4 linked regions of the Homo sapiens genome follow. The protein of the gene in region 3 purifies or fractionates together with the protein of the main gene of each other region. This does not show direct contact. Each region holds a gene or a part of one and is shown on either strand. Other genes may lie near its edges. The genes, in order: PLBD1, ECM1, GMCL1 and KLK10.

Evidence for each region.
Region 1: the proteins of GMCL1 (region 3) and PLBD1 purify together in Homo sapiens (affinity purification with mass spectrometry; 3 studies listed by BioGRID and IntAct, with this or other methods). This does not show direct contact.
Region 2: the proteins of GMCL1 (region 3) and ECM1 purify together in Homo sapiens (affinity purification with mass spectrometry; 3 studies listed by BioGRID and IntAct, with this or other methods). This does not show direct contact.
Region 4: the proteins of GMCL1 (region 3) and KLK10 purify together in Homo sapiens (affinity purification with mass spectrometry; 3 studies listed by BioGRID and IntAct, with this or other methods). This does not show direct contact.

Annotation. Positions count from the first base shown.
Region 1 is NC_000012.12:14,564,864-14,572,087, forward strand, and holds the start of PLBD1 (phospholipase B-like 1 precursor), read right to left. Parts: upstream 3,021-7,224; 5' UTR 2,834-3,020; coding exon 2,719-2,833; intron 1-2,718. UniProt on the Homo sapiens protein: In view of the small size of the putative binding pocket, it has been proposed that it may act as an amidase or a peptidase.
Region 2 is NC_000001.11:150,503,648-150,511,113, reverse strand, and holds the start of ECM1 (extracellular matrix protein 1 isoform 1 precursor), read right to left. Parts: upstream 3,006-7,466; 5' UTR 2,905-3,005; coding exon 2,835-2,904; intron 1,584-2,834; coding exon 1,533-1,583; intron 1,454-1,532; coding exon 1,352-1,453; intron 1,280-1,351; coding exon of another isoform or gene 1,193-1,279; coding exon 1,112-1,192; intron 1,013-1,111; coding exon 932-1,012; intron 239-931; coding exon 1-238. Other genes in the region: TARS2 (threonine--tRNA ligase, mitochondrial), read right to left, coding at 4,050-4,198, 5,409-5,523, 6,136-6,208, 6,381-6,482, 6,679-6,779. UniProt on the Homo sapiens protein: Involved in endochondral bone formation as negative regulator of bone mineralization. Stimulates the proliferation of endothelial cells and promotes angiogenesis. Inhibits MMP9 proteolytic activity.
Region 3 is NC_000002.12:69,832,642-69,839,661, reverse strand, and holds part of GMCL1 (germ cell-less protein-like 1), read right to left. Parts: intron 2,116-7,020; coding exon 1,992-2,115; intron 206-1,991; coding exon 109-205; intron 1-108. UniProt on the Homo sapiens protein: Possible function in spermatogenesis. Enhances the degradation of MDM2 and increases the amount of p53 probably by modulating the nucleocytoplasmic transport.
Region 4 is NC_000019.10:51,016,695-51,024,373, forward strand, and holds the start of KLK10 (kallikrein-10 preproprotein), read right to left. Parts: upstream 3,016-7,679; 5' UTR 2,933-3,015; intron 2,678-2,932; exon of another isoform or gene 2,559-2,677; intron 2,449-2,558; exon of another isoform or gene 2,446-2,448; 5' UTR 2,437-2,445; coding exon 2,349-2,436; intron 597-2,348; coding exon 416-596; intron 1-415. Other genes in the region: KLK11 (kallikrein-11), read right to left, coding at 5,851-6,003, 6,398-6,534, 7,351-7,679. UniProt on the Homo sapiens protein: Has a tumor-suppressor role for NES1 in breast and prostate cancer.

The sequences.
Region 1 (7,224 bases), on a different chromosome or scaffold from region 3:
AGGTCTGCCAAATCACCTTATGGAGACTGAATGACTTCCAAGATGTTAAACTTTTTCAGAACCAGATAAAGGTATGATTTATTTCTCTAGTGACCACCTGACTTCTCTATACATACCACTTAGAAAAAATTATATAAGGACCTTCTAAAATCAATTATGGGGCTTTTGGTCTGGAAAGATAAACGCAACACCATATGTCTGAAATCATAGCTTGAAAGATTTGGCTAGAATGACTGTGCAATTATTTGTCAACTTCTGGAATAATAAAACTATAGAGTAACCTTTACAAATTGAAGAATATGCAAGAATTAACTAAAAGTGTCCGGGCATGGTAGCTCACACCTGTAATCCCTGCACTTTGGGAGGCTGAGGCGGGCAGATCACCTGAGGCCAGGAGTTCGAGACTAGTCTGTCCAACCTGTTGAAATCCCATCTCTACAAAAAATATAAAAATTAGCTGGGCGTGGTGGTGTGTGCCTGTAATCCCAGCTACTCGGGAGGCTGAGTCAGGAGAATTGCTTGAACCAAAGAGGTGGAGGTTGCAGTGAGCCGAGATCACGCCACTGTACCCAGCCTGGGGGGAAAATAAAAATAATAGGAAATAATAGTAAAAAAAAAAAAAAGTAAAATTAAAAATTGAAGAAGTTGTTTTTGGATAGATAGATGCATATGAGTGGATATAAAATCCATTCCAAGGGGATGGACATGCAATCCCTTTAGTGTTTACTGAATTCCTACTAAGTTCAGGGTACTGAGCTGGGTACTTCAGAGAACACATGACAAGTGAGAGGTAGCAAGTCCCAGTTCTTTACTCTTTGGTTGTTCGCAGGCTAGTAGAAGGGTAAAGACAAAGACCCAAAAAGCCTCAAGGGAAAACAGATTAATGTGGGTAGGACAAAGGAAACAGAGATCTCATCTGCTGAAATAGTGTGGCATCACCAGATGTCCTTAACACCTAGGTAAGTAAGAATCCTTTCCAGATTGCTGGGCATGGTGCTGTCAGGATCACTTCATCTCAGAAATGTCCTTACTTTCTGCCTTGGCTCCAGAACCTCCAAGCATGGAGTCAGCTTCCTGTTGGAGGAACTGTTTAAGATGCAGTTTCTTACAAGGTGGTACCTTCTTGAATAAATAGTGCTCCATCTTCAGAAAAACAACGCCTGTCTCACTCCTCAGGCTGCCCCCTCCACCTACAAAAACACTTAATCTCACTCGTCCAAAAAAACAGAAAAGGAATAAAGATTTTAGCCAGCATTCCAAACACAAAAGCTACCTCCACTTTTGGGACCCTCCCCAGCCTCCCCCAGGTACCTCTGAATGAGCTGTCTCCCTAGACTAGAAGTAGACACCAAGGCCACCTCCATAGTTTAGGCAAAGAACACAGAAAATCACGAGTCAGGAGCCTGTGGGTACATCTGATCCCACAGACTGGAAAGATTTAAGATTGAAGAGTGATAACTAAGCAAGTCTCAAAAACGAAGGCTCTTGATGATGGAAGGTAGTGTAATAAGAATCAGTACACATATTTAGGAAGGGGCATCCTCCCCCAAGCCCCACCCTACTCTTGTACAAGGTCAGCACAGAAAAGGGGATTATGAAATAAGACAAAATTAATTCTCTTATTATTACTTTAGAATTCTTTCAAGTCCCTTAGTTACAGTTCATAATCTTCACCTCCTTAGGAACGGAAATCATAAATCCAAGGCTTTTTAATTTAATTTAATTTAATTTTGGCAAAGGATGTAGATTTGCATGAATACCTGTAGAGATAAAACCTGTTTTTCCAAGAGGGAAGTAGTTAAGAAAATGCCCTCTGGCATCCCCTAACTCTGTCTTATTTGCTGTGTTATCTTTATGCGAATTACTTCTGATCAATCTCACTTTTCTCATCTGCAGAATGGGGAATATAATCCTATTTAGGATTATATATTAAAAAAAAAAAAAAAAAACTGCCGGGCGCGGTGGCTCATGCCTGTAATCCCAGCACTTTGGGAGGCCGAGGCAGGCGGATCGCCCGAGTCAGGCGTTCGAGACCAGCCTGTCCAACATGGTGAAACCTCGTCTCTACTAATAATGCACAAATTAGCTGGGCATGGTGGCTGACGCCTGTAATCCCAGCTACTTGGGAAGCTGAGGGAGGAGAATCGCTTGAACCCGGGAGGCGGAAGTTGCAGTGAGCCGAGATCACACCATTGCACTCCAGCGTCGCCCACAGAGAGCGACTCTGTCTCAACAACAACAACAAAACCAAAAGGCCCTTAAGCCCACTGCCAGGCACGTATCAAACTGACAATCGTGCAATCGTGATTTTAAGCCAAAGTCAATGTAAATTTTTAAAACACAAAACAAATGGCAAGCCGGAACCATACCTCCCTACAATCTGGATAAATATATTTAGATGCCCATTGGCTGGAGTTTTTAAGACCAGCCCAGGCTCTGTGGGCCAAGAATCGGCGCAGGAGCGAACCGATTTGTTGGCCAAGAATTCGGGCCAAAACTTGTAAAGTTGGCAGACGCACTCGCCATGCCCTTCTCAAGTGCCCTCGCTGCGCAGCCGCAGGGCTGGAGCGAGACCGCCGGCCGGAGGCGCGTTTCTCTGAGTTCACCCAGGAACCAGACGCCCGCTGGACGTCAACTCGGCCGGACGCGGGGCACGGGCGCTAACAGGCTCCTAGGAGCCTCCCCGGGCGCCCCCCGCCCAGGGCGCGCTCTGCTCACCTGCAGGTTTCGGCGGCTCCGCGGTGACTAACAACAGCGGCAGCAGCAGCAGCAGCAGCAGAAGCGGTGGCGGCTGTGGCAGCCCCGGGCGCCCGCCCGGACCGCCGCGGGTCATCGCTCCACGGCCGCGACCTTCCTCTGCGGGATCAGGCGGCCGCGGTGGCCCGCGGTGGCAGAAGTTGCAAGAGAGGCTCCTGGCCTACTCAGGGGCGCCGCCTCTCCGAGGTGGGGCGTCCTCAACTTTCCTCTTTCTTGAGCCCGGCCTGCTCCGGGCTCTGAGGGGCGAGGACGCTTCACGTGGTGGCCTGGGGCCCACCCCGCCTAGGAAAGGCGGATCCTTTACGTCTGACCCTCTAGCAACCCCTGGGCCGGTCTGGGAAAGTTCCCCAGCTGCACTTCTGGGAAATGCAGAGGCTGCCTGCCGCTTTCTTTCGCAGTTTTGCGGCCCAAGGCTTGGGCGAATCAGTTCACATCAACACCCCTACTAGCCTCTCCCTCCGGGGTCGACCATTTATCTCCAGCAGCGGACCAGGCGCCCGGGCCAGGGTGACATGCGCGCCCTGCCTACACGCAGCTCGGATCCTCTGCTGTTTCTGGAGAGGCCTCCACAGGTGCGTTTTCCTCAGCGATTAGCGTACCCCTCATTCCCAGGCTGTTTAACCTAAATCCATGCGCTGTAGCTCAGATTTTTTATCCTTTTTGCTTCCTCTTCGTTGGCTGGAGCCACCACAGGAGAGTGATTCAGACGGGGCTGACACTAGACACACTCCTACGTTTCTGTGGAGTCCCCATTTCTGTGTGGGGTCAGTTAAAAGTGACATTGTGAAGTAGTCAAAAGTTATGCCTTGGGTGATATTGTGAAGTTGGCACCGGGTGCCCTAGGTGACATTGTGAAGTAGGCAAAAGGCATTTCATTCATTCACTCAGCATTGGCTGGGCCCATCTTATACTCCAGATACCAGTGATATAAAGACAGCTAAGAGCATGCCTCACCACAGACAAAAAGAACTAAGCCAGCCGGGCGCCGTGGCTCACGCCTGTAATCCCAGCACTTTGGGAGGCCGAGGCGGGCAGATCACGAGGTCAGGATATCGAGGCCATCCTGGCTAACACGGTGAAACCCCGTCTCTACTAAAAATACAAAAAATTAGTCGGACACGGTGGCGGGCGCCTGTAGTCCAGCTACTTGGGAGGCTGACGCAGGAGAATGGCGTAAACCCGGGAGGCGGAGCTTGCAGTGAGCCGAGATCGCGCCACTCTACTCCAGCCTGGGCGACAGAGCGAGATTCGTCTCAAAAAAAAATAATAATAATAACAATAATAATTTTTTTAAAAAAGAACTAAGCCATATAGATAAACAAGTACACAGAACTTGCCATTCTACTGTGTTAGAGCTATGTTTAAGGTGCAGTGGGAGAGGGGGAAGGAGGGAACAAGCCACCTCTCAGATGGGAACCTCAGCACCCCACTCTTCCTCTTGGCCTTTCTTCTAAGCTTAACCTAGGTGTCAAGGAGAGATGAGAAGAGAGAATAAGCAGTACCTTTCATAACGGGGAAAATGTAATTGTTAGAAAAGATAAAGAACCTAAAAGTTCATCAAATCTCTGTGCAAATTGTGAAACACAAGTCACAATTTTGTGGTCCAGGCACCATGGCTCATGCCTGTAATCCCAACACTTTGGGAGGCCAAGGTGGGAGGATCACCGGAGCCCAAAAGTTCAAGACAAGCCTGTGCCACACAGGGAGACTCCAACTCATTTTTATTTAATTAAAATTAAAGTCACAATTATGTTTAATGGCATTTAATGAATGAAGACATCGAGGACATTGTAAAAGTTGCACATTTTCCTTCAAGTTAGAAAATTAAAATGAAGAAAAATTAAAACGAAGACATCGAGGACATTGTAAAAGTTGCACATTTTCCTTCGTTAGAAAATTTAAATGAAGAAAAATTAAAATGAAGACATCGAGGACATTGTAAAAGTTGCACATTTTCCTTCAAGTTAGAAAATTAAAATGAACCAAAAATGAAAATTTTGGTTGTGTTATGATGGGAAGAGAACCACATTAGGATGTTCAAGGAAGTGGTGCCACCCCAAATATTTGAGTCATATTGCCCTATACCACCCTCCTTCACCTTACTAACCCTTCTGATCCAAGGAGCCAAGTGTTCTGATGAAGTAAGATGCATATAAATGCCTAATGTGAACCTTGAGGCATTCATTCATCTATTATTTGTCATCAAATATTCGTTGACTCCCATGTTCCAAGCACAGAGCAGTAGACAAAACAAAGTCCCTGCCCTTGCAGAGCTTGCATTCCAGTAGTGGGGAGCAAATTATACATATAAACAAATTAATTGGATCAGGACTTCTCCACATCAGCACTATTGAAATTTTGGAGCAGACAACTCTTTGTTGTGGGGGGGTTGTCCTGGACACCCCTTGGCCTTTACCTACTGGATGCTAGTGGCACCCCCATTGAAAATGTCTCCAGACATTGTCAAATGCTCCCGTAGGGGGGCAAAATTGCCCCCTAGTTGAGAATCACTGAATTAGATGATAAATCTTGCTTTCTTTAAATTATGCCAGTTTTACATATCTGGGAGGAAAATGAGCTGCAAAACTCACACATAGTTAGGAAAATAAATCTTGGGACCCCAAAATCACTAAGCCAAGGGAAAAGTCAAGCTGGAAACTATGTCAGGCAAACCTGCCTCTCATTTTATTCTGAAATAAGATAGCTACAAAGATAAGAAGCTACATACCTCCCTCACAGTTTGCCCACAAGGAAATTCCCTGTGGACAAAGGGAAGACAGAACTTAAAAGTCATCCCTCTGAGGCTCACCTGAGACAAATGCACATCTGATTGCTTCCTCTGCAGTATTGTTTATGTAAAAATGCAGACTCCCTGGGCCAGACTAAGTTGTGTATTCTGTGGAAGGCTGATCAAGGATTCAAAAGAATGTAACATTTTGTCTCTTTTCTACTTCTAACATGGAATACCCCACTTTGAGTTGTCTCGCCTTACCATACTGAACCAATGTACATCTTACACGTATTGACTGATGTCTCATATCTCCCTAAAATGTATAAAAGTAAGCTGTACCCCGACCACGTTAGGCACATGTTGTCAGGACCTCCTGAGGCTGTGGCCCTGGTGTGTCCTTAACTTTGGCAAAATAAACTTTCTAAATTGACTGAGACCTGTCTCAGATTTTTTGGATTCACATACTAAAGCTGCAATGAGGAGAACCAAAGATGCCAGCTGCGAAATGTTCTCATCACTTCTATAATGGACTTGTGTGGTTTGGGGCTACTCAGCGTCCATTATTCTCTTCCTGTACCAACTTTTGGTGCAGGAATGCCAACTTTTGGTGAGCCAAGGGTGGAGGTGTTTCTACCAGGAGACACAATAAGGAAGTATTATTGAATTGGAATTTGAAAGTGCATTACTGAATTGCAATTGGTCTTTTTTGAGCTCCTCTTAAAACATAAAAATATGTTTGAATGGTTAAGAATAGGATTGTAGTATTGGTAATTTTGCCTTACTATCAAAAGGAGTAGGAGCATTGGATGCGGTGGCTCACTCCTGTAATCCCAGCACTTCAGGAGGCCGAGTTGGGTGGATCACTTGAGATCAGGAATTCGAGACTAGCCTGGCCAACATGGTGAAACCTCGTCTCTACTAAAAATACCAAAAATTAGCTGGGCATAGTGGCTCATGACTGTAATCCCAGCTACTTGAGAGGCTGATGCAGGAGAATCAGTTGAACCCAGGAGGCAGAGGTTGCAGTGAGCTGAGATCGCACCACTGCACTCCAGCCTGGATGACAGAGAGAGATTCCATCTCAAAAAACCAAAACCAAAACAAAATGAAAGGACTGGGAGCATAATCTCACCTGGGAAGCACCACTGGGGACTCAGACTCCTCATCCCAATGGGCAAAGAATCCCAGCAGCTGAGTTGCTGGCCCAAAGCAAGGGGAACATGGAAAAAAGGTGGAGAAGAGAAGTCACATATAATTATCTATAGCCAGGTGACCAGTTGCAGAAACAAAGATAGTGGTCTCTATTGGCCTCTATATTTCTTTCCTTGCTGTAACATGTATGTGGTGGATTGAAAATTTTACAGTTACAGTTCCAGAATGAAATATCCAAAATGTAAATTTGTTTCTTTTCCAAAAAAGTGTAATTAACTTAGCATTCAAACACATCCACTGATGGTAATTTTTTTTTTTTTTTAATTTTTTGTAAGACAGGATCTCACTATGTTGCTCAGGCTGGTCTCAAATTCCTGGGCTCAAGTGATCCTCCCACCTTGGCCTTCAAAAATGCTGGGATTACAGGTGTGAGTCCAACCAGTAAAAATTTTTAAATACCAGATTTAAGGTTGCGCAATTTCATTTGGACCAAATCCTTAGTGTCCTTTGCCTTCTTTATGTCCTTACCATTTTTCCTTAAGGATGACCTTAGCTTCGGGGGCTTATGTATTGACTTGGTACTA
Region 2 (7,466 bases), on a different chromosome or scaffold from region 3:
TCACCCTGGCGAGTGAGGTGGGAGTAGCTGGACTGTGGTAGGTTCCAGGGACCATATACCACATGCTGACGGTTAGGAAGGCAGATTTGGTTCAGATTGTCTGGAGAAGGCCGCCCAGGGGGGAAGCCATCCAGCCGGTGGCCCCAGCCCCCTTGGGACCGGTCCTGTTGGCAGTGCTGGGCTGCATTCCAGGACTCAGGTTCTGGATGGCTCTGGTCCCCAAATGGAGCTGGCGTTCCTGGAATGGGGAAAACAGTGGGAAGCGGGGACATGTGAAGGAACCCACAAAGGCTGGATGAGCTGGGAGGATTGAAAGAATCTGGGGTGGAGGAGAAAGGGTTGGGAGGATATAGTGGAAATGAGAAAGAACAATTTGTGGCTCTTCCTTTTAAAATAACTGAAAGGAAAAGAGAAGCGAGGTGTGAAAGGTGTCAGCTCACAGCCTGCCCCCACCTCCTCCTGCTTCTCAAGGCTCGGGCTTCCTGCTCCTCTCCCCAGGGTCCTGAGCACTAAGGCAGGAGGATGGACAGACCAAAGCTGTCACTCACCCTCTCTCGGCATGGAATGGATGATTATCTCCTCCTGATATGGAAGAGGTGGGTCTACTGGGTAGAAGGAGTAAGCAAAAGCCATGTTGGGATGGCCATCTCTAGCAGAGAAAGCCTGGCTAGTTTACATGCACAAAGAAGAACTCAGCAGAGAAGCAAGTGAAAATAGATGCTATTTTTGCACATCTAATCACATAACTTTCTAAAACAGGTATATCCTCAATTTTACAGATGAAGAAACAAAGGCTTGGAGAAGTATGTAACTTACCCAAGGTTATACAACTGGTGAGTGGCAGAGCCCACCGTCTTGTCTGCCCCGAAGCCCATGCTCTGGGGGAAGGCCATGAGGTAAAGGTGGGTAAAGAAGAGAGGGAGCTGCTTACCTTCCTTCTGTTCATTGGGGTGCTGGAGAGAGGGCAGCTCTTTTTGGAGGGGGACAGCTTCCTGAGGGAGAGGGGGACCCACTGCAAGATAGGGGTGAGGGCACCAAGGAGCAGGGATCAGCCTGGTGTCAACAGGATCCATAGTGGGATAGAGGTGAGGGAGGGTGGGCAAGCGCTCACCTTCCTTTTCAGCAGGGAGTTGGGCAGGTAGCAGCTTTTCCTGTTGGAGAGGGGTGGCCTCCTGAGAGGGAGGGGGCTGCACTATAGAAGGGGGAATGTGTGAGCAGCCCACCCTTTCTCCTAGCCAGGGCTGGGAGTGGGGGCGAGGGCCTCTTCCCTCCTTTCCACCTGAAAAGTGGGATATAGGCCAGATTAGAAACCTGGAGGGTCACTGAGGAGGGCATGGGATGGTGACCTTACCTTGACTCTGTCCCTCAAAGGGAGGGCCATGCTGAGAGGAGTCAGGGTGATCCATGGGGAGGCTTCGGGATAGGGGTGGGGAGGGGGGAGCTGCGTAGCCAACTAGAAGCAAGAGGGGAGACATCAGAGCCCACAGTGCCTCCTGGAGTCCCAATCCCATGCTGCTCCCCCAAACTCTTACCTTCTTGAAAGTGCTCTGGCCTCAGCTGCCTCTGTCCTGTAGCCGTGAAGCCTGGAGGGAAGAAGGGCAAGTCAGGGGCCACTGGGAGGGCCTTCCCTGGACTTCAGCAAGGGATGGGGAGGCTGTGGAGATCAAGAGTGTAGGACAGACAAGCAAGACACGAGATGCCCCTCTGTATTCACCTGCCCCGTGTCCCCTAATCCTCTCCCAGCCCCAACACACCTAGACATGACCAGCTGGGTTCTGAGAAAGCCTGTGGCGGTCTGATAGCTCCACCTCTACTGGCTCAGAGGTTGGGCCTAAAGGGAGTATGGCATACGGGATTGGGGAGGGAGGCCCTCATTTCCTCTGCCAGTCTTTCCCTCAGGGCTGTGGGTTGTCCTCCCCAGTCTCTGCTGGGATGCGTCTCTAGCTTTCAGAGGAAAAAGTCTGGACCTTGAGCTGGTTGGAGCCTACCCAATCCACCTCCTCCACCCACCCTCCTACTCCAGGCCCTTGAAACATCTTTAGGCCTTTGGTTAAGGAGGCTTCCTGAAGGTTGAGTGCTTCCCCTTCAGCCAGTCTCAGCTCCGCCTTAGTTTAGGTCTCAATTTAGGGCCTGGGGGACTGGGACAGGCACAGGGAAGGGTCACTTGTAGGTGATCTGCAGACACAAAAGACCAGGAGCTGGGAAGAATGATGGCATGGGGCTTCACAGAGAAGTGGACAGATTTGCTGACATCCTCAGCAGCTTCCTGCAGGAGTGCCCTGGGTGGTTTTTTTCCTTTTCTTTTCCTTTTTTTCTTAGTTTCCACCCATAGCATTGAGGGGTTCCTGTTTTGTTCAGGCATCAAAGCAGATAAAGAATGTGTTTGTGCTGGATGGAGGGTGGGTCTGTGGATGGACACCCCTCAACTCCTCTAATCAGACAGGGAGTCAGTCGAGGCTTGCTGGGCCAGCAATCCGGTTTTGAGCAGCCTGGGGGCCCCTTTTCCCTCCCTTGCCTCTCCCACCAGCCACCTCCCTACATCCTCATCAGCAGGAGACCCTCACTCTGTGAACCCACCCCCCACTCAGTTGTCTATTTGACTGGGATTCTGTGTTTCTTGGCAGCAGTTTCTAGGAACCCCTCTCCTTCTGTGCCCCTGCTCTCTGCCTCCTTGGTTAAAGGCTCCACTGGCCTAGGCCCACTTTGGGCCTGCTCAGAAAAGGAAAGCCAAACGGAGAATCACTCTGCTAGTGATGAGCCGTCTGGGATGCCTGGACCCAGACCCCTGCCATGCAAGCCCAGACCCCCTCCTAAGTGCTGATCCCCCAACTCACCTCCCTCAGAGGCAGCAGAAGCAACAGCCAAATAGGTCAAGACCAAGGCTGCTCTGGCTGTGGTCCCCATCCTGGGGCAACTGACCACTGGACACTCAGAGGTGGGTCCTCTCAGGCAAGTCTGGATGTGAAGGGCCGGCCACTGAAGCTTGTCTGGTGGCTGTTACGGTTGTGAGCTTCAGGACCAGCTCTTCTTTTATAATTGTCTGGTGTGATCTCCCGCCCTCCTCAGCTTCCTGCCATGACTCAGTCCCAGCTGCTCCTCCTCTGGAAGCCACTCCTCCCAAAGTCACCCTGAAGCCTCCTCAGAGGATTGAGAAGAATGGGACTGATTAGAGGAGAACATTCTTATGACCTTCAAGAGAAACTGATTCAGAGAATCCAGGAGCAAGAGGTGTTTGAGCCCCTAGTTTGTGCCTCAGTTTCTCCATCTACAGGCTGCCTTCTGTGGAGAGGGGATCTGCCAACTCATGAACTGGGGTTGGGGAAACAGGGCACAAAGGAGTTTACAGCGGGGAGCAGGAAACCTATCCAAGGGATCTCCCCTACCAGTGTGAGGTCTGGACTGTCCCTTTTCAATTTCCCTAACTCTCTGGGACAAAAAAGAGGGAGACAAAGTGGAACATCCTTTTATCCCACCTCTCCAGAGTCAGAGATGAAGACATATGACCAGCAGCTTCCAGTTTGTATTTATTTATTTATTTATTTATTTAGAGACAGAGTCTCGCTCTGTCGCCTAGGGGGGTGCAGTGGCGCAATCTCAGCTCACTGCAACCTCTACCTCCCGGGTTCAAGCGATTCTCCTGCCTCAGCCTCCTGAGTAGCTGGGATTACAGGCGTGTGCCACCATGCCCGGCTAATTTTTTGTATTTTTAGTAGAGACAGGGTTTCACCGTGTTAGCCAGGGTGGTCTTGATCTCCTGACCTCATGATCCGTCCGCCTCAGCCTCCCAGAGTGCTGGGATTACAGGCATGAGCCACTGCGCCTGGCCCAATTTATTTTTTTTTGTAGTTTCATTCTCCTCACATCCAAACAGCTACAGCTTCCCTCCTTTTGTGGGGTCCCCAAACCAAGTCTCTTTTCAGGAGAGCAGACATGTGCCTCCACACAGTTCTGAAGTTCTGGGGGCTCCACATTGTCAGCTGGGTTGGGGTCTCCCATGTGAGGGAGGCTGATGGCACTCGCAGGTTTTTGCCTCATCTATGTACAAAGGCTCAGAAAATTTCTTCGGCATTTGGGACCCTCGTGTTCTGTAGCTCCACCAGTCGCTGCACAGCCTCAGGCAAGTCCCACTCCCCAAGGCGACGATTATCTCGAGTCCGAATGTTCACTGTTCTCTTACTTTGCTCTTTCTGGCCAACCACTGCAGGTAGAGGAAGTTTGGGAACCTCAGGGCAAATTCACCCACATGGAACAGTTTCTTTTGCTCTGCAGAAACTTGAGAGACCTAAATCTTTAGGAAGGGTGGGAGCAGAGCCCAGATATGGTTCACAGAAAGGAAGTATTCAGCTGTGTCTGCTAATACTAAATGACCAGTCCTGCTCATCCTGAGGAGACAAGGAAGTGCTTCAGTCCCCGCAGGCCTTATCGCTTCTGGTCAAGAGCCCCAGGGTCAGAGACATAAGAGTCAAGCAGAGAAAGACAAACACTGAGAACCCCACAGAGAGAAACTGTGTGTGTGTGTGTGTGTGTGTGTGTGTGTGTCAGAGACATTAGAGTCAAGCAGAGAAAGACAAACAATGAGAACCCCACAGAGAGAAACTGTGTGTGTGTGTGTGTGTGTGTGTGTGTGCGCGCGCGTGTCTGAAGGGGGTATTAGAGCAAGTGGAAGGTGGCAGGAGTGGTGTGGCCTTCACACTGCCCCGCCTCCCCCCAACCACTCTGACCCTTAGAACAGTTTCCTCTCATCAGTCCCACTCTGGCTCTTGGTGTCTGTTAGGGCTGGATTCACAGAGTGAGGGGCCTCTGCTGAGGAGGATGTATGCAGGGGCTGACTGGGCGGTAAGGGAGGGAAAGGGGCCATGTACAAGTCCCTGGGATTGCAGCACAGCTTGCTCTGGGTGCTTGTAGGGAGAGTGGGGTGTGCAAAACTCAAGAATCAGGTAATCTGGCTGAGGAGTTTCTGCTCCTCACCTTTGAGATAGAGCCCTGAACCCTGGAAAATGAAAAAGGGAGCATGGCAGTGCCAGAATTTTCTCCCTAAGGCCTTTCTCCTCATCCCTTAGGGCTGATTCCATCTAGGTCTAAAATAAACAAGGGTAATTAACGCTGTATTAACCCTCCCGTCCCTTTCTCTCTGATGCTCCCTTGGTTAATTAACCTAACAGACACCAACAGCTAGAGTGGAGTTAAAAAGAGGAAAACTATTTTGAGTGTCAGAAGTGGTTATGGGGAGGGCAGGGCAATGTGAAGGAACACAGGGCCCAAATGAGTCAGGTGTCCTGAATCCTGGCTCCTACCTGCTCAGGTAATGAGCCCCAATTAACCCAAATATGCATTACCAGACTTGGTAAACTTAACAGCAAGAATGCAGACGGCAGGTGGGAGAACATTGGCTCTGAGGTTCAGCTTACCAAACTGAAAATTGTAGTGGGCAAGCTGGGCCCGGCGGATTCTCCGGCTGAGGGTCAGTCCAGAGTCTGCATCCAGGTCACTGACCAGTCCTGCAGCCCGCAGGCTCTGCTGTGCCTGCAACAGAGGTTTGGTGACAGGAAGTTAATTTACTGGAAAGTTAAGGAGCTAGAACAGTCTGATGCTCTTTTCCCTCAATGCCCCCATCTGTTCCTCCTTTCCCTGCCTCGGGGCTCTCCACTTCTTACCAGCAACCTCTCCTCATTTCATCTCCACATTGAGGCCTCCTCCCCATTCATCCCCAACCCCACAATCTTTCTGCCTCCTACTGGAGATGACCCCCCAGTTATTCCGTGGACTTTGCCTTCTAGCCACTGCTCTACCCAACCAGCTGTTTGACTCTGGTACCATCCATATCCTCAATTCTCTCTAGAAAGGAAAAATAAAACTGTGTACTCAATCCCAGTTTTGTGCCAAGTGCTCTTTTGGTGGCTTTCAACATTTGTTAATTTGTTTAATTTTCATACATCTCTACAAGGTAGGCATTAGTCACATTTTTTAGATACAGGATTTCCAGCATCTAGGACAGCAGCCACTCGAGCCCAGTCTTGTGGCTGTGAGGGCTGTGCTCCTTCCTCTACCACCCCTGCAGCCTCTTCCTGCCCACTGCAGGGCACCAGACTCTCTACTGGACCTGCTTCTGCCCCCTCCCTTACCTCAACTCCTTACCTCTTTGGCGTATTCCTCTTGCTCACTCCCCACAGGGATGACCACCACCTGGAACGGGGACAGCCACAGTGGCCTGGTAGGGAAAGAACAGGTGATGGCAAATTAGTCACTCTGGCTCTGGCCAGAAGTGTGCTTGTATGGAGCAGACTTGAGAAGGAAAGAGGCTGGCATATGAAGGGGGACAGGATCTGGAGCATAACTATCCGGTTTGGGGCCAGAACAGAAATCCAGGTCAGAGGTCTCACCATTTCCCCCCGCAGCTTTCTGCCAGCACTCCCAACAGTCTTTCCACAGAACCGAGCACTGCTCGGTGAATGAGGACTGGACGCTCCAGGGCACCCGCCTGCCTTGAAAGGAAAAAGGGGGGGGTGGATGGAATGGTGGAAGTATCACGAATTGTGTACCCAAGATCACCTTCCAGTTTTTAAGAAATATTCAGCTCTGGCAGGAGAGGGTGTGGAGGGTTTAGTTTTTAGGGCCAAAGGCAGAAGGACTTATTCCATGCACTGTCAAGGGAAAAGAGGATAGGGCAAGGTTTTATACCCCTTATACTGGAGGTCAAATCTCAGGGGCAGTTGGAAGTCAAGCTGAATTGTCCCACACTGATGTGGCCGGCCCAGGGCATCGTGGAGGTGCACGTCAATCTACAGGAAACAGATGGGAAGGCACGAGATAAGCCAGAAGCACTATCCAGAACCACTATCCTCCATTACCTGTGCCATCCCACCCTTTAACCTACCCTCATCCCGGGCTACTACCTTCATCATGTCACCTAGCTCTATCATACGCTACCCCTCCAGTTCACTCTACTCAACTCACTCTGGCAGTAGTTCTCAGCAGCTCTCTCCATCTAATAATGGTGTTATAATATTACCTGATGTCCACACCCTGGCCTCTCAATTCCTTGAGCTCCTCATCTCAGAGATCTTCACCACCACCCATCTATGGCTACACCCTTTATCCTGTCATCTCCCCCAATGGCTGTACCTCTGAAACTGTCCATCAGACACCCTACTCTGATTACTGTCTCTTGGTCAGCCAGCTCTGAGAATTATTCCTTTTTTTTTTTTTTTTTTGAGACAGAGTCTCACTCTGTCACCCTGACAGGAGTGCAGTGGCACGATTTCAGCTCACTGCAGCCTCCGCCTCCCGGGTTCAAGCGACTCTCCTGCCTCAGCCTCCTGAGTAGCTGGGACTACAGGTACATGCCACCACGCCCAGCTAACATATATATATGTATGTGTGTGTATATGTGTGTGTGTGTGTGTGTATATATACACACACATATATATACACATATATACACACATATATACACACATATATACACA
Region 3 (7,020 bases):
AAGGAGTTTTCTAGACTACAAGGCTGGAAGGAATTATTTATCTTCTACCAGAAGAATAAGATTATGTTTTTACGATTGTTGCATAATAGTAATTATTGTGGTAGTTACCTTCTACATCAATGTTCTGGTCAGGAATCTCCAGTTCAATAATATTCATGCTGGATTCTTTCCAAGAACCACTGAACATACTAGAAAAGTAGCCAGACTTAAACAAAAAAAAAAGTCAACGATTATCAAGTACTTTCTGTGTCTTCCAAATTATTTGCCCATTTCTAATTCTAAGCAACTATTCTATCCATTAACTAAACTCATCCATTCTATTACTTCAACAGAAAAAGAACTGCCAAATATGTCCACAGGAGAAAAGAAATTAAGATAAGGACACTATTAGGTGTATCAAAATATACTTTTGGTTTAGTACTATTTTTGACAAAAAACTAAAATTCTTATATTACTATCTAAATTGAATTCATGTATATTATTTGAACCTGGTTAGCTTTTTACTCAAACTGTTGAATCTTTACTGTACACCTGAATGGCTATAAAGGACCAAACCAGTCCCAAGTCAGCAAAAACAGGATGATCGCCAAAGAAACCAGGGAAAATCCAAAATTTAGTTTAATGAGAAATGTCCAGAATGGACCTGAATTCTTGGAAAGGTACAGAATGAAGTCTTTAGGTATCTGCCAGATAGCACTCCTCATAATTAGAATTACTTTGAAATGGATCAAATATTAACTAATTTATTTAAAAATGTTACTGAGTACTTAGTATGTAGAAGGCACTGTGAATATAGCAATAAACAAAATCGATATTGTTTCTGTCCTCAGGGGGCTTATATTTTAGCATGTGGCTTGAATTATAATACATCTTCCACGAGGGGTAAAGTTTTAACAGAGGTATTCTTACCCTCAAGTTCACAAAACTGCTTTCAGATATTAAAAAGAAACAACATGAATCATACCCTGAAGTTAAAAGCAATATTCTGATATAGTATCTGGGCAACATACTTCAAGCCAAAATAAATTTGTTTCAAAAACACATTTTAAAACATGATTAAAATGTTAGAGAAGGCAATTCATTTTCAAATACTTTTACTGAAAAATTTTATACTATGCTGTCTTACCAGTAATTATTCTCAAATGGTAAAGAGGAAAAATGTAAGTTCCAAAGGATAAAAACTGTTGTTTTATTTCTAGTGCCTCAAACAATACCTAGCTTATAGATTTGATGAAAGAAAATGAATAAAATATTTGGGCCATTAGAGCAACATTGTATTCTATTTTGAAAGCTCCGATTTTTTTTTTTTTTTTTTTTTTTTTTTTGAGACAGAGTCTCGCTCTGTTGCCCAGGCTGGAATGCAGTGGTACGATCTCAGCTCACTGCAACCTCCATCTCCCAGGTTCAAGCAATTCTCCTGCCTCAGCCTCCTGAGTAGCTGGGATTACAGGTGCCCAACACCACGTCAGCTATGAAAGTTCTGAATTTTTAAAGTGGGGTGGCAGGTAGTAATATTTTCAGTACAGAAATCTACTTAGTCTATATACTTTTTGGTGTTGTCTTTACCTGCATTTTTCAGGAGAGAACTTTCTATTCACACTCAATGTGAACTACAAAGCAACATTTCAGATGAGTTTATCCAATTTAAATAACCATAAGCAAAATAAACACTACAATCTTAACTTTAATGTTAAATATTTTTTCCCCAACTTTTCCCCTTTTATCAACAGAAGGCACCGAAAAAAGCATTTTATGAAGTAATGACAAATACGTAGTATTAGGCTAGTCTGATACTGAAATATCAAAATCTCTTTCTAGACCAAACTTAGTTTTCACTAACAATGTTTGCCATTTTTCTTACAGACTGATCAAATGAGAGGATTTAACCACTATGGTGTTCATGCAAAAGATTACTGTGAAGTGCAATGAGGAAGAACATGACTTAAGAGTTTCAGTGACTACCCTGTTACTCAAATAGAAAAAATACTTACTTGACATAAATATATTTTGTGTAAGCTCCATTCTTCTCCTAGAGCACAAATCTTAATGTCACTGTTTTCACCATTCAAAAATAATGTTTGATAAATATATTTAGATGTACTCTTTAATTTTTTCCTGTTAAAAGAAATGAAAAAGTCACATATTTATATAAAACTGAATGTTTTACTGATTTTGCATATATTTCTAAATACTCCTTTTATTCAATTTCTATTAAATAGAGTCAACTTACCTATTGTGTAAAAGGATAGGGAGATAGTATATATTCAAATTTTCTTGTGTCTAGAAGAGTACATAAGAAACTAATAATAGTGGTTATCTCTGGGGTCCTCTATGCACGGGAGAGATAGTGGAGAAAGGGGGGCAGCATGGGAGGCAGACTTTTCACTACACATGTTTTAGCAATTTTGGACTAATTTAATTACCCATTCAATAGATTAAGAAGTTAGCATGTTGATTTTTTGCTTATTTCCTTATTTAGAAACCAGCACTATGAAGGAGCTCAAATAGCGCAATAATCTGCAAGTAGGAAATGGAGAACAAGAGTAAACATTTCACCTACCCAAGTAATTTTAAAATAATTTACATTTAATCTTATTTTGGTACCAACCTATTCTTAAACTACTTAAAATGTTTTCCAGCCACTGGACAAACGGTTTGCAACCTTAGATCAAAGGTTTTCTTTTCTTTTCCTATTTGTTTTTTAAAATTATTTATTTATTTATTTTAGATGAAAGGTTTTTAAAACTGCTCAAAGGAGAAGTCTTAGGGGCCACCAAGGAGAGCTAAGGAGTGAACTGTGAGCATCCCATCTAACTTCAACCAGAGCAGCATCACCTATTCTATCTGTAAACATACTGGATTTCTGCACAGATTTAATTTAAAGGAAGACTTGACTAAAAAAATAAAGTTTGAAAATCATTGCTCAAAATGATCCAGTAACTAAGAAAAGGCCTTAGGCAGAGGCTGATCAATATCTTAAATTCCTGACCAATTCTGAAAGCTTTCCTAGCACATAAAACCTTCAATCTCTTTTTAAAAATGAAGTAATTGTTTCAGATGACATCCTGAATTGGCGAATTTAACACCTGTGTACTTAACACCTCTTCCTAGCCGACAATAAAAACAGCACATGTCTTAGTGGTAACAGACTTGGGTTTGAGTCCCAGCTGCTCAGTTATCACAGCTGTAAAAAGAGGACATTAATAGTATCCACTTCACTCGTTATGATGCGAAATCAAGAGACAATGTAGTTTCCAGTTCCTGACGGCAGAATGTACACATGTTGGCTTCCCATCCCTCCCCAAATTACATTAAAGATTAAGAGTACAAAAAAGGAATAAGTCCACACCAGGAAAAGGTGAGGGTAGGCTCATCACTTGATGAGAGATTTATACAGATCTGAAAGTTAGAAAACAAATTCAAATGAAAAAGAACAGTGACAGCCACAGCCAAAAAATACATTATGGAGGACTAGGATGGAGGCTAAGCTTATCTGCCCATCAGAACCCTTGGGAGAAAAGAAGGATGAGGTCTCAGGGAAACAAAGGCAGAAGTAAGAAGAGGGGCAGAAAATGGGGAAACTAGTGCCTTCTCCACTCTATGAACACAGAGTATAGATAAGGAGAGTACAGATACTGAGGCAAAAAGATTCCAAGGTTTTTCTAGAAATAGCACAAAGCTAATGGAAGATCTAAGGCTGTAGTGTAGCTGCTGGTGCCCAGACAAAGCAATCCTCATTCTGAAATTTAAAGAATCTGTGGCCTGTTCACTCCCAATCCATTCACCCTAAGTCATGGTTCCCAAACCGTGTGTGAAATTCACCAGTTCAGGATACCATCTGAACTTAGAGCACCACAGCCAACTCAGAGAGGCATGTGGAGTATTTTAAATTCGAAGGAAACACAGTAACATCTTTCAGATACCATGCAATCTGCTATCATTAGGTTGTTTGGCCCTAACTATGAGGTATTTCTTTTGGACCAGGGGTGAAAATTACTAAAATATGAAATGTGCTGTGATCCATGAAAGCTTGGGAACCTCTGCTCTACAAAGCATGCCCCACCTATAACCAACTTCGTAGTCTTCTTACTCAAAGAAGAGGTACATTGGAAATAGATCTATTTCCTCAATTAAAACACCATACACCAGTTACTCCTTCTTAAATATAAGTGGACAAGCAAGGAAGGATCACCCACCATGAGGAAGAATAAGAGCATATCAGAGAGACAGAGAGACTCCCTCCACCCCTGGAAACATATAATTCAGGGAAAAGAGAGGAAAAAAACACCCTCTCACCAGTATACCTAGAGATCTGAGATTATTATATTTACCCCATAGACTGCTATGATAAAGGATCACTCAGAACAAGAAAGAGCTTTTAGAGACTAAAGACATGATTACTGAAATTTAAAAAAACAAATAAACCAAAGAATAGTTTGTTTGTTTTTCTTCCTCATGTTGGGTGATCCTTCCTTGCTTGTCCACTTATATTTAAGAATGAATAACTGATGTATGGTGTTTTAATTGAGTAAATAGATCTATTTCCAAGGTACCTCTTCTTTGAGTAAGAAGACTACGAAGTTGGTTATAGGTGGGGCATGCTTTGTAGAGCAGAGGTTCCCAAGCTTTCATGGATCACAGCACATTTCATATTTTAGTAATTTTCACCCCTGGTCCAAAAGAAATACCTCATAGTTAGGGCCAAACAACCTAATGATAGTGATGAAAAAGTTAAAGGAAATTTCCCAGAACATAAAGCAAAAAGACAAAGAAAGGAAAAAAGAAGAGACAGGCATAATCCAAGAAATCCAAAATCCAGTTAAGAGGCATCCCAGAAAGAAAAAATAAAGATAAGAAGCGAAAGGAAATTATGGAAGAAATTAATGGAAAAAAATTTCCCAAAACTAAGGTAGTATATGAGTCTCCAGATTATAAGGATCCAACAAGTACCAAGGCCATTAAAAGACCCACACTTAAGCACATTCTAATTAAATCCCAAAATACCAAAGAAAAAGTTCCACAAGTTCCAGAGAGCAAAAATGGTCACCTGAAAAGAGAATTACACCAGAATCAAATTTTTCATCAAGACTGTAGGCCTGAAGACAATGAAGCAGCGTCATCAAAGATATGAAGAAAGTTACTTTAGATTTCCATACCCAGTCAGAGGATGAATAAAGTAAAAGAGACTAAATTTATATTTAGATACGCACAAATTACCCCCTTTTGCACCCTTCCTTGGAAAATACTTGAGGATGTATTAAATAGTTCCTAAAATAAGCGAGAAAGAAATGCAGGCTACACAAAATAGTGGATTCAATCCTAGAGATGGGGTGAAAGTAAGTCCCAGCATAAGAGTAGACAAATCCAGATTGGAACAGGAGGATGGAAGAGGTCTAGGTTTTAGAGAAGGATTCCATGAAAGTGTGTTTCAAAAGACTTTTCTGTGTTTTTTCAGAAAAACCCGAAGCCATGATGAAGGAATATTGTTATTTTGACAAGAGTGGGGGAAAGGCCATTATAAACTCTAGGACAATAAAAAAGCAATACAAAAAAAGGCACTGTCCAAATAAGATAAAAACAAAAGCAGGGCCTGACTTTAAGCACTTGATGGAATACAAGAAAAGATTCCATATGACTGTGAGGTTAGAAAAATTTCTCCCTTTGAACAGACAAGCAGTTGTGACACTGGACCCATCAAGTATGATTTATAATCCTAGCATACTACTTAACTCTTCTGAAACAATATTTACTTAGTTATAACTATGTAATGTCGTTTCAATTTTTTAGAGACAAGCTACGGACAAAACACTCAAGATCTGGTTGTAGAACAGTGTGGGTTTTAACAGTCTCGTAAATGTAAAAGTAGAACATGCAGTTGACAAAGGTATGAGGTGGAAGTTGGGCCTAAAAGCTAAAACTTCTCATAAAGTGGTCTGTTGATGTGGGAGAGCACACCAGACAACCTCAGGAAGTATATACTAGGGCCAACACACAAAATTCAACATCTTAATACTTTCTCTTTTAAATTTTTATTTGTTTAGTTTTTGAGACAGGGTCTTACTCTGTTGCTCAGGCTGGAGCGCAGTGGCGCAATCTTGGCTCACTACAACCTCCGCCTCCTGAGTTCAGGTAATTCTCCTGCCTCAGCCTCCCAAGTAGCTAGGAATACAGGCGTGCACCACCAAGCCTGGCTAATTTTTGTATTTTTTGGTAGAGGCGGGGTTTCACTGTGTTGGTCAGGCTGGTCTCAAACTCCTGGCCTAAAGTGATCTGCTTGCCTTGGCTTCCCAAAGTGCTGGGATTACAGGCGTGAGCCACCACGCCTGGCCCGTCTTAGTATTTTCTTACACCCTGCATCCGTATTGGGCTGAATAATCCAAGCATCTTCCAGTAATATACAGACACTAAATTCTGATATGCATTTTCCGATAAAGGTTTGCCTTAAAAACTTTCCATTCCAGTCCACTCATGTAGTCTAGGAGTTGGTACACTTTTTCTGTAAAGGTCTAGATAGTAAATATCTTTAGCCTTCTGGGCCAAAAGGCCTCCAAATAATTTTGTTGGCATCCTAGTAGGCAGTGTCCTACTTGCCAGCCTCAGCTTACCACACTTGAGCAAACTTTTCCACCATCCAGTGGGCTACAGCCACACCTCCTTCAACATCATCTGAATCTTAGCTTGGGAAAGGGGTGGGGGCACCTATTCCAAATTTGTTCCTTCTGTGGCTATTCTGCCTCAGCCTTAGAAGTACTGACTACTACATGTATTTTCTAGGGATCTCTTTACCTTAGCGTTTTGTCCTCAGTAGTTAATTCTCTGTGCCTTGTTAATAATGTTTATATTAAATTTCCTGTATTCAAATTGCTGTGTGATTTCTCTCCTTCAAATGCACTGTGACATATATTTCAATAATTACGTTAAATATAAGTGGTCTAACTACTAATTGAAAGGTTAGATTGTCCTGTTGGACAAAAGAAGCAAGACTCAACTATATGCTGTTTACTTGATATCTGTTTTAAA
Region 4 (7,679 bases), on a different chromosome or scaffold from region 3:
CCCAAAGTGCTGGGATTACAGGCGTGAGCCACCGAGCCCAGCCCAACTCCACATTTTCTCTGTGGTAATACCCAACCCTTCCTCCTTCAACGGGGACTCACGAAGTGAACCTTTTCCTTTAGTTCTAAATTCCTGACCACACCGGACCCTGGCTTCTATCCGTTGCAGGCAACCACCTCCTCCTAGAGCTCAAGGAGAATCAGCGGGAGAGGAGTGACGGGCCCAGAAATGCGGAAAAGGACCACACCGCCCCCTGGCGGCCACAGCGCAAGCCCGGTCTCTCCTCCTGCTGGAAGGACACCGGGGACCGCACCTCCAGCTGTGGGAGTTCCGAGAGACCCCGCCCTGCCCGCTCCTCCCTGGAGGCCGCCTCCACAGCCCCCCGTGGCGTCCTCGGGGATGGATCTCCTCCTACTTGTTTCCGCAGTGCGCGGCCGTCAGCACCCAACTCTGGTCCACCAGGACACCCGCGCAGTGGAACGAGAGGCCGTTGAAGAGCGAGACCTGCCAGGGCTGCGAGCCGCGCGCGCACGGGGAGCCATAGGCTTCGGGGTCCAAGCGCGTGTCGTTTTGGGGGAGCAGCGCCGCCTCTGCGGCTGGAGAAAGAAAGGGGACGGAATCAAAGCACGGAGGGCAGGGTCTGGGTTTGGGGTTGGAGCTGGGCTGTGGCACTGGACTGCGTTCGGGGACGGGGGACGCAGCCAGAACGCGAGGGTGGTAGGGAAATATTGGGGGTTTCGCGTGCACCGAAGGGAATGGGAGGAGAAGAAGCGCGTGAAAGTGGAAGGAAGCTGGGATAGGGTAGCGTGGAGTAATGAGACAGAATAGGGTGGGTCTGGAGGGCAGGGACTGAACGCAGCGCGCCTGGAGAGCTGGCTAGAACGTCGCTGGTCGATAGAGGGGCGGGGATTGAACGCGGCGGGGAGGTAAGGGTGCGGGGATAGAACTCGGGGATCGGGGAGAGGAAGGGGTGTGAATAACAAAACGGGATTGAAAACCAGGAGAGGGGTGGGGCGCAGTGGTTTACGCCTGTAATCCCAGCACTTTGGGAAGCCGAGGCGGTTGGACCGCTTGAGCTCGGGAATTCAAGACCAGCCCGGGCAACACAGCAAGACCCAGTCTCTACAAAAACAAACAAACAACAACAACAACAACAAAAAAGTAGTCGCGGAGGCATGCGCCTGTAGTCACAGCTACCTGGGAGGCTGAGGTGGGAGGATCGCTTGAGCCCAGGAGGTGGAGGTTGCAATGAGCCGAGATTGGGCCACTGCACTCCAGTCTGGGCGACAGAGTGAGACCCTGTCTCAAAAAAAAAAAAAAAAAAAAAAAAAGCCGGATGTGGTGGTGCATGCCTGTGGTACCAGCTACTCTGGAGGCTGAGTATCGCTTGAGCCCAGGAGGTCGAGGCTGCAGTGAGCTCTGATTGGGCCACTGTACTCCAGCCACGGAGACAGAGCACTGCCCTGTCTCAAAAAAAAAAAAAAAAAAAAAAGAAGGAAAGAAAAAGAGAGAGAAAGAAAAAAACAAGAAAGAAAGAAGAAAAAATAAGAGAGAAAGTAAAACAAGAAAGAAGAAACAAACGAAAGGAAGGAAGGAAAGGAAGGAAGGAAAAGAAGAACGAAAGAAAGAAAAGAAAGAAAGAAAAAGAAAAAAGAGAGAGAAAGGGAAAGAGGAAGAAAAAAAGTGAGGGGAGAGGGCAAAAAGCGGTAAGGCAAGACTCAGGATAAAACACGGTGGTGTGGCCGGGAGCGGTGGCTCACGCTTGTAATCCCAGCACTTTGGGAGGCCGAGGCAGGCGGATCACGAGGCCAGGAGATCGAGACCACGGTGAAATCCCATCTCTACTAAAAATACAAAAAACTAGCCGGGCTTGGTGGCGGGCGCCTGTAGTCCCAGCTACTCGGGAGGCTGAGGCAGGAGAATGGTGTGAACCCGGGAGGCGGAGCTTGCAGTGAGCCGAGATCGCGTCACTGCACTCCAGCCTGGGCGACAGAGCGAGACTCCGTCTCAAACAAACAAACAAACAAAACAAAACACGGTAGTGTAAAATGGAGCGGGGCCGGGATGGGGCGGCGTAAGAGGAGGAGAAAGAACGCGGCGAAGAGTCCACGGAAGAGCGAGGATCCGGGTGGCAGAAATCGGACAGGGCCTGAGTGGGGCGGGTCACCCAGGGGCCGAGCCAGAAGAAGGGCCCAGCTGACTTGGGGGCGGGCCGTGCTCCGGAGCGCTGGGTGGGTGCTGGGGTCTCGGGGGAGGAGAGGTGCGCGGGGCTTGGTGACGGGAACACATTCTCCTCCCGCCCGTGCCTCCCACCGGCGCCTCTCCCCGCCCCCTGCCCCCGACCTTACCCCAGAGTTGCGCCATCAGCAGCGGCAGCAGCTTCGCCAGAGCCCGGGCGCCAGAGGCGGCGGAGAGGTGGAGGTGCGGAGCTCTCATGGCCAGGATCTGCTGGGGTGTGTGCAGGGGCGGGTTAAAACAGATGCTCCGTTAGAGACCCCCACCTCGCCGCGCTCATCCGCCCAGCCTGGGCCACCCCAGCCCGCAAGCACCCTTTTGACCTGCAGCCGATAACCCCAGGGGCTGGCAGACGGGAGATTCGGGCTGGAACAGCGGTAATGGGCACAATTACCCTAATGACGCCCCTCGCGGCATCTTCCCGTCCTCCCTGTGCCCGAGTGGAGCGCTCTCCGCGCCCCAGCTACCCTGGCTGCAGCCACGCCGCGCCCGAGGTTTCCCCCTCCTTCACGCGCGGGGTGGGGATCCGAGGCTCGGAGCCAGTGGGAGCCTCTTTCTCAACCTCACAGCGGGGGGACTTCCGCGTCCCGCAGGTGGAGAAACCGAGGCTCTAAGCCGGCTCCTGCCTGTGGCCCGGGGGTCCCCACCCATCCTCTCGCAATCCACCCCAACCCGGGTGGGGTGCAGGTAGCTTCACCTGGGAGTCGCCGATAGGAAGGAGGGAGGGGACCCAGACGTGCCTCTGCCCTGCCTGTGGTCTGCCGCTGGTATCCTCTGCCCAGGGACCCCTGGCGGGACCTTCCCTTTTAACCCCAAGGAGTCCGGAAGCTTCTCCACCCTCCCCTACCCCCACCCCCGGGCTCCCTCCCTTTCCCTCTGTCTAATTGTACCGTGGGTGAGGCTGGCACTCCTGGGTCCCAGATTCCTGCTCTGGGAGGGGCCCTGGAATACAGGCTTCTCCCAGTGCCCGAAACGCCCCCTTTTCATCCCTTTTGGAACTGGCTTCCGTGGGGATTCTCCGGGTCCCGGTGCCAAGAAGGCTTCCCAGGCGCGGGGAGAGGGTTCACGTCCCCAGCAAGGCTAGGGGTGGCAGGATGAGAGGCCACTGAGCAAGAGGAAATCAATGGGAAGTGCATACCTAGAGTGACAATGTGAGAAGCCAGACTGTGGAAGAGGAAGGAGGAAGGCCTAGAGATAAAGCAGGTTGAGTAGGAGGGACAGAGGCTGGCTTGAAAAGGGAGATTGTAACAAACCAAGGCTAAAAGAGCCAGAGAGAGAGAGAGAGAGAGAGAGAGAGAGAGAGAGAGGGAGGGAGGGAGGCGCCGAGGCTAAGAGAAACAGAAACAAGGAAAAAGGGAAACCCACGCCCACTCTGTGGCCGTGAGTGAGCTCTGTGTGTGTCCCAGTGACTAGCCCATGTGCGTGTTGGGGGGGGCTGTGGCTCTGCCTCATACCCATGTGTGGCCATCTCACACCCTCCCTGCCATCTGTGTGCCACCAGGTGACACACAGGCCCCTGAATCATAGGAGGTCAAAGCTGTGAGGGGCATCGGCATCACCTCAGCCAACTCCCTCATCTCAGGTGAGGAGTGAGAGGCTCAGAGAGGGCAGAGACTCACAGGAGGTCACACAGCAAGTCCACTTGACAACCAGAAGGCCCTGGTTCCACTCTGGGCTCCTATTGCTCATGCCAGCCACTTCTGCGAGGTGAACAGACCATCCCAAAAGATCCTGAGCTGGCCGGGCGCGGTGGCTCACGCCTGTAATCCCAGCACTTTGGGAGGCCAAGGGGGGGCGGATCACGAGGTCAGGAGTTCGAGACCAGCCTGGCCAACATAGTGAAACCCCATCTCTACTAAAAAGACACAAAAATTAGCTGGGGATGTTGGCACAGGCCTGTAGTCCCAGCTACTAGGGAGGCTGAGGCAGGAGAATTGCTTGAACCTGGGAGGCAGAAGTTGCAGTGAGCCGAGATCACGCCACTGCACTCCAGCCTGGGTGACAGAGCAAGACTCTGTCGCAAAGAAAAAAAAAAAAAAAGATCCTGAGTTCTGGATTCTCTCCGTGGGACATCCTCTTCAGAGGCCATCTAACTCAGTGCTGCTCAGCTGAACTTTCTGCAGTGATGTTTTATATGCACTAGCTAATCCAGCCACCACCAGTCACATGTGGCTATCCAGCCTTGGAGATATAACAAGTGAGACAGAGGAGTTACATTTCTGGCTTTATGTAATTTTAATTGGAAGAGCCAGCTGCGGTTAGTGGCTACCATATTGGCCAGCAGAGGTCTCCACTATCTAATTACCTATCATGGAAGTTGGAGAAAAACAATAAGCTCCTTTGGTTAGGTCTTAGTATGTGCAGGCTAACTGACTTCTTTACTTACTGTGTTATACTTTTGCATGCAGCATTTTACAGGAAAGGAAACAAACAGAGCCTTACTCCAGGAACATCACTTGGTAATTAAGAGATCGCCTTGCTTCAGATCCTTGCTCTCCTAGCCACGTGACTGTGAGCAAGTGACTTTGCTTCTCTGTGTCTGTTTCTTCAACTATAAAATAGGTATGAAAACAGTACCGACCTCACAGGGTTTTGTGAGGATTAAGTTGATACATTTGAAAGTGCTTGGAGGCCAGGCACAGCGACTCATGCCTGTAATCTCACCACTTTTGGAGGCTGAGGAGGACAGACTGCTTGAGCCCAGGAGTTTGAGACTAGCCGGGGCAACATACTGAGACCTCTGTCTCTACGAAAAATACAAAAATTAGCTGGGCTTCGTGGCATGTGCCTGTAGTCCCAGCTACTCTGGAGGCTGAGGGAGGACAATCACTTGACCCCAGGAAATTGAGATTGCCGTGAGCTGTGATTGTTACTGCACTCCAGCCTGGGCAACAGAGCAAGACTGTCTCCTAAATAGATTAATTAATTTAATTTCTTTTAATTAATAAATGAAAGCCGGGCGGGCGCGGTGGCTCACGTCTGTAATCCCAGGAGTTTGGGAGGCCAAGGAGGGCAGATCATCTGAGGTCAGGAGTTCGAGACCAGCCTGGCCAACATGGTGAAGCCCCATCTCTACTAAAAAATACAAAAATTAGCCGGATGTGGTGGTAGGCACCTGTAATCCCAGCTATTCAGGAGGCTGAGGCAGGAGAATTGCTTGAACCCAGGAGGTGGAGGTTGCAGTGAGCAGAGATAGCACCACTGTACTCCAGCCTGGGTGACAGAGCGAGACTCTGTCAAAAAATAAAATAAAATAAAAGCCATTGGATCAGGGTCTAGCACATAGTAAGCACTCAGTAGATTCACTCATTTAGCAAATATTTATTGAAACCTTGATATATGGCCAGGAGCTGTCTTTGGGGCTGGGGATACAACAGAGAACAAACCAGGTGTTGTCATTCCCAGAGTCACAATATTTCAAGGCAGAATTTGAATCCAGGTCTCACTGATTTCGAACCCCAGGTTGATTATTAAGTGACAGCATCTCCTGTAGTCCAGGAGGCCCAAAGAATGTTCGTAGAGGGTCTTGGCTTAGGGTTTCTTATTAACAGAGTGAACAGGAACCAAACACCAAGTGGAAATGGAGGGTGATGGGCTGTGGTGGGTGGGTCCAGTCTAATTGTTCTTCATCGTCTCCTGGATCCAGTCCACATATTTGCAGACTTTCGTGTAGACACCAGGCTTTCGGGTGATCGCACACGGATCCTGGCCCCAGGAGATAATGCCTTGAAGAGACTGGTTACAGACCAGAGGGCCCCCGGAGTCACCCTGGGCACGGGGAGAGAGAATGTCGGTCAGAGAAAGCGTTGAGCATGGTGTTAGCCAGGGAGGAGGTGGGGACGGTGCTTAGGAGTGGGGCCGAGACAGGATGGGTAGGCACTGGGAAAGGTGATAGGTTTAGCGATAAAGCTGGGATTATGGGTGGGATAAAGGATGGGGTTAGGCTCAAAAACGAGTTTGGGGATGGTTGGAGCTGGAAATGGTGTGGAAACGGGGATGGAGCTGAAGTTTGTGCTGAGGTCAGAAACGGGAACAGGGGAAGAGATGGATTGGGAGTTGCAGGGGTCGGCGGGTTGAGGTTGGGGATGAAATTGTGGATGTCGGTAAAGATGTCATTGAAGCTGGGGATGGGGATGGGGCTGTGGTTGGAGACCACACTGACCTGGCAGGAGTCCTTGCCCCCTTCCTGCACGCTGGCACACACCATGGTGTCTGTGATGTTGCCGGGGTAGGCGTTCTCACACTTCTGGTGCTCAATGATGGTGATGTTGGCGCATCGCAAGGTGTGAGGCAGGCGTACTGTGGAAACAGCGTGAGGGGCTGTGGGAATGAGCCCCCTGCCACCTCCCCTAATGCAGTGCTTGCTGTGATCCCGCCCCTGGGGGAATCCCTGTCCTTAGACGCAGCCAACTCACCTCTCTTCTTGTAACAATAGCAACAGCAATGCTATCCAGCTTTTTTTTTTTTTTTTTCGAGACAGAGTCTTGCTCTGTTGCCCAGGCTGGAGTGCAGTGGCGTGATCTTGGCTCACTGCAACCTCCGTCTCCCAAGTTTAAGCGATTCTCCTGCCTCAACCTCCCGAGTAGCTGGGATTACAGGCGCACACAACCACGCCCAACTAATTTTCACATTTTTAGTAGAGATGGGATTTCACCACGTTGGCCAGGCTGGTATCAAAGTCCTGACCTCAGGTGATCTTCCCACCTCGGCCTCCCAAAGTGCTGGGATTACAGGCGTGAGCCACGGTGCCCAGCCTGCTATCCAATAAATGATTTATGTCAGTTGCTTGATATACATTATCTCTAATCCAATCCTGACAGGTGGGTATAATCATTCTCATTTTATAGAGAAGAAAATCAAGATTCAGAGAGGTGAAGCTGCTTGCCTAAGGTCTTACAACCAGGAGGTTATGGATGTATGATTGCATATCCCGTCCGTCTGACTCCAAGGCCCCAACTTTTGTCCCCACCCCCCTATCCTGACGTTTTCCACACATCCTCTCAACTTATCCCACATCGTCACTGTGAACCGCATCTCTGATGCCCTGAACCCTTCCACAATCCTGACCACTCCCTCCTCACCACCCCCTGCCAGGTTCCCCTCTGGTGCTCCTACACTGGGGGCTGGACGTGCTGCCCCAGCCGGAAATGAGGCAGCTGGTGCCAGCAGTGACACAGCGTGAGGAGAGGGTGAGGGGTCGCACAGCCCAGGTGATGGAGACTGGCGATGCCATCTTCACCAGCATGATGTCATTGCGGTGGTCTTTGTTGGGGAGGCTGTTGTTGAAGCCGGGGTGGGGGAAGGACTCAGTGGCTGTCCGGGTCTGCTCACAGCCCTCCTCCTTCTGGAGGTTGTGCTGCCCCAGGTGAACTATGTAGCGGCTGAGGTGGGAGAGACAGTAGTTGGAGGAGGAAAGGTCGGGGGAGACATGGGTGGGAGAGGTG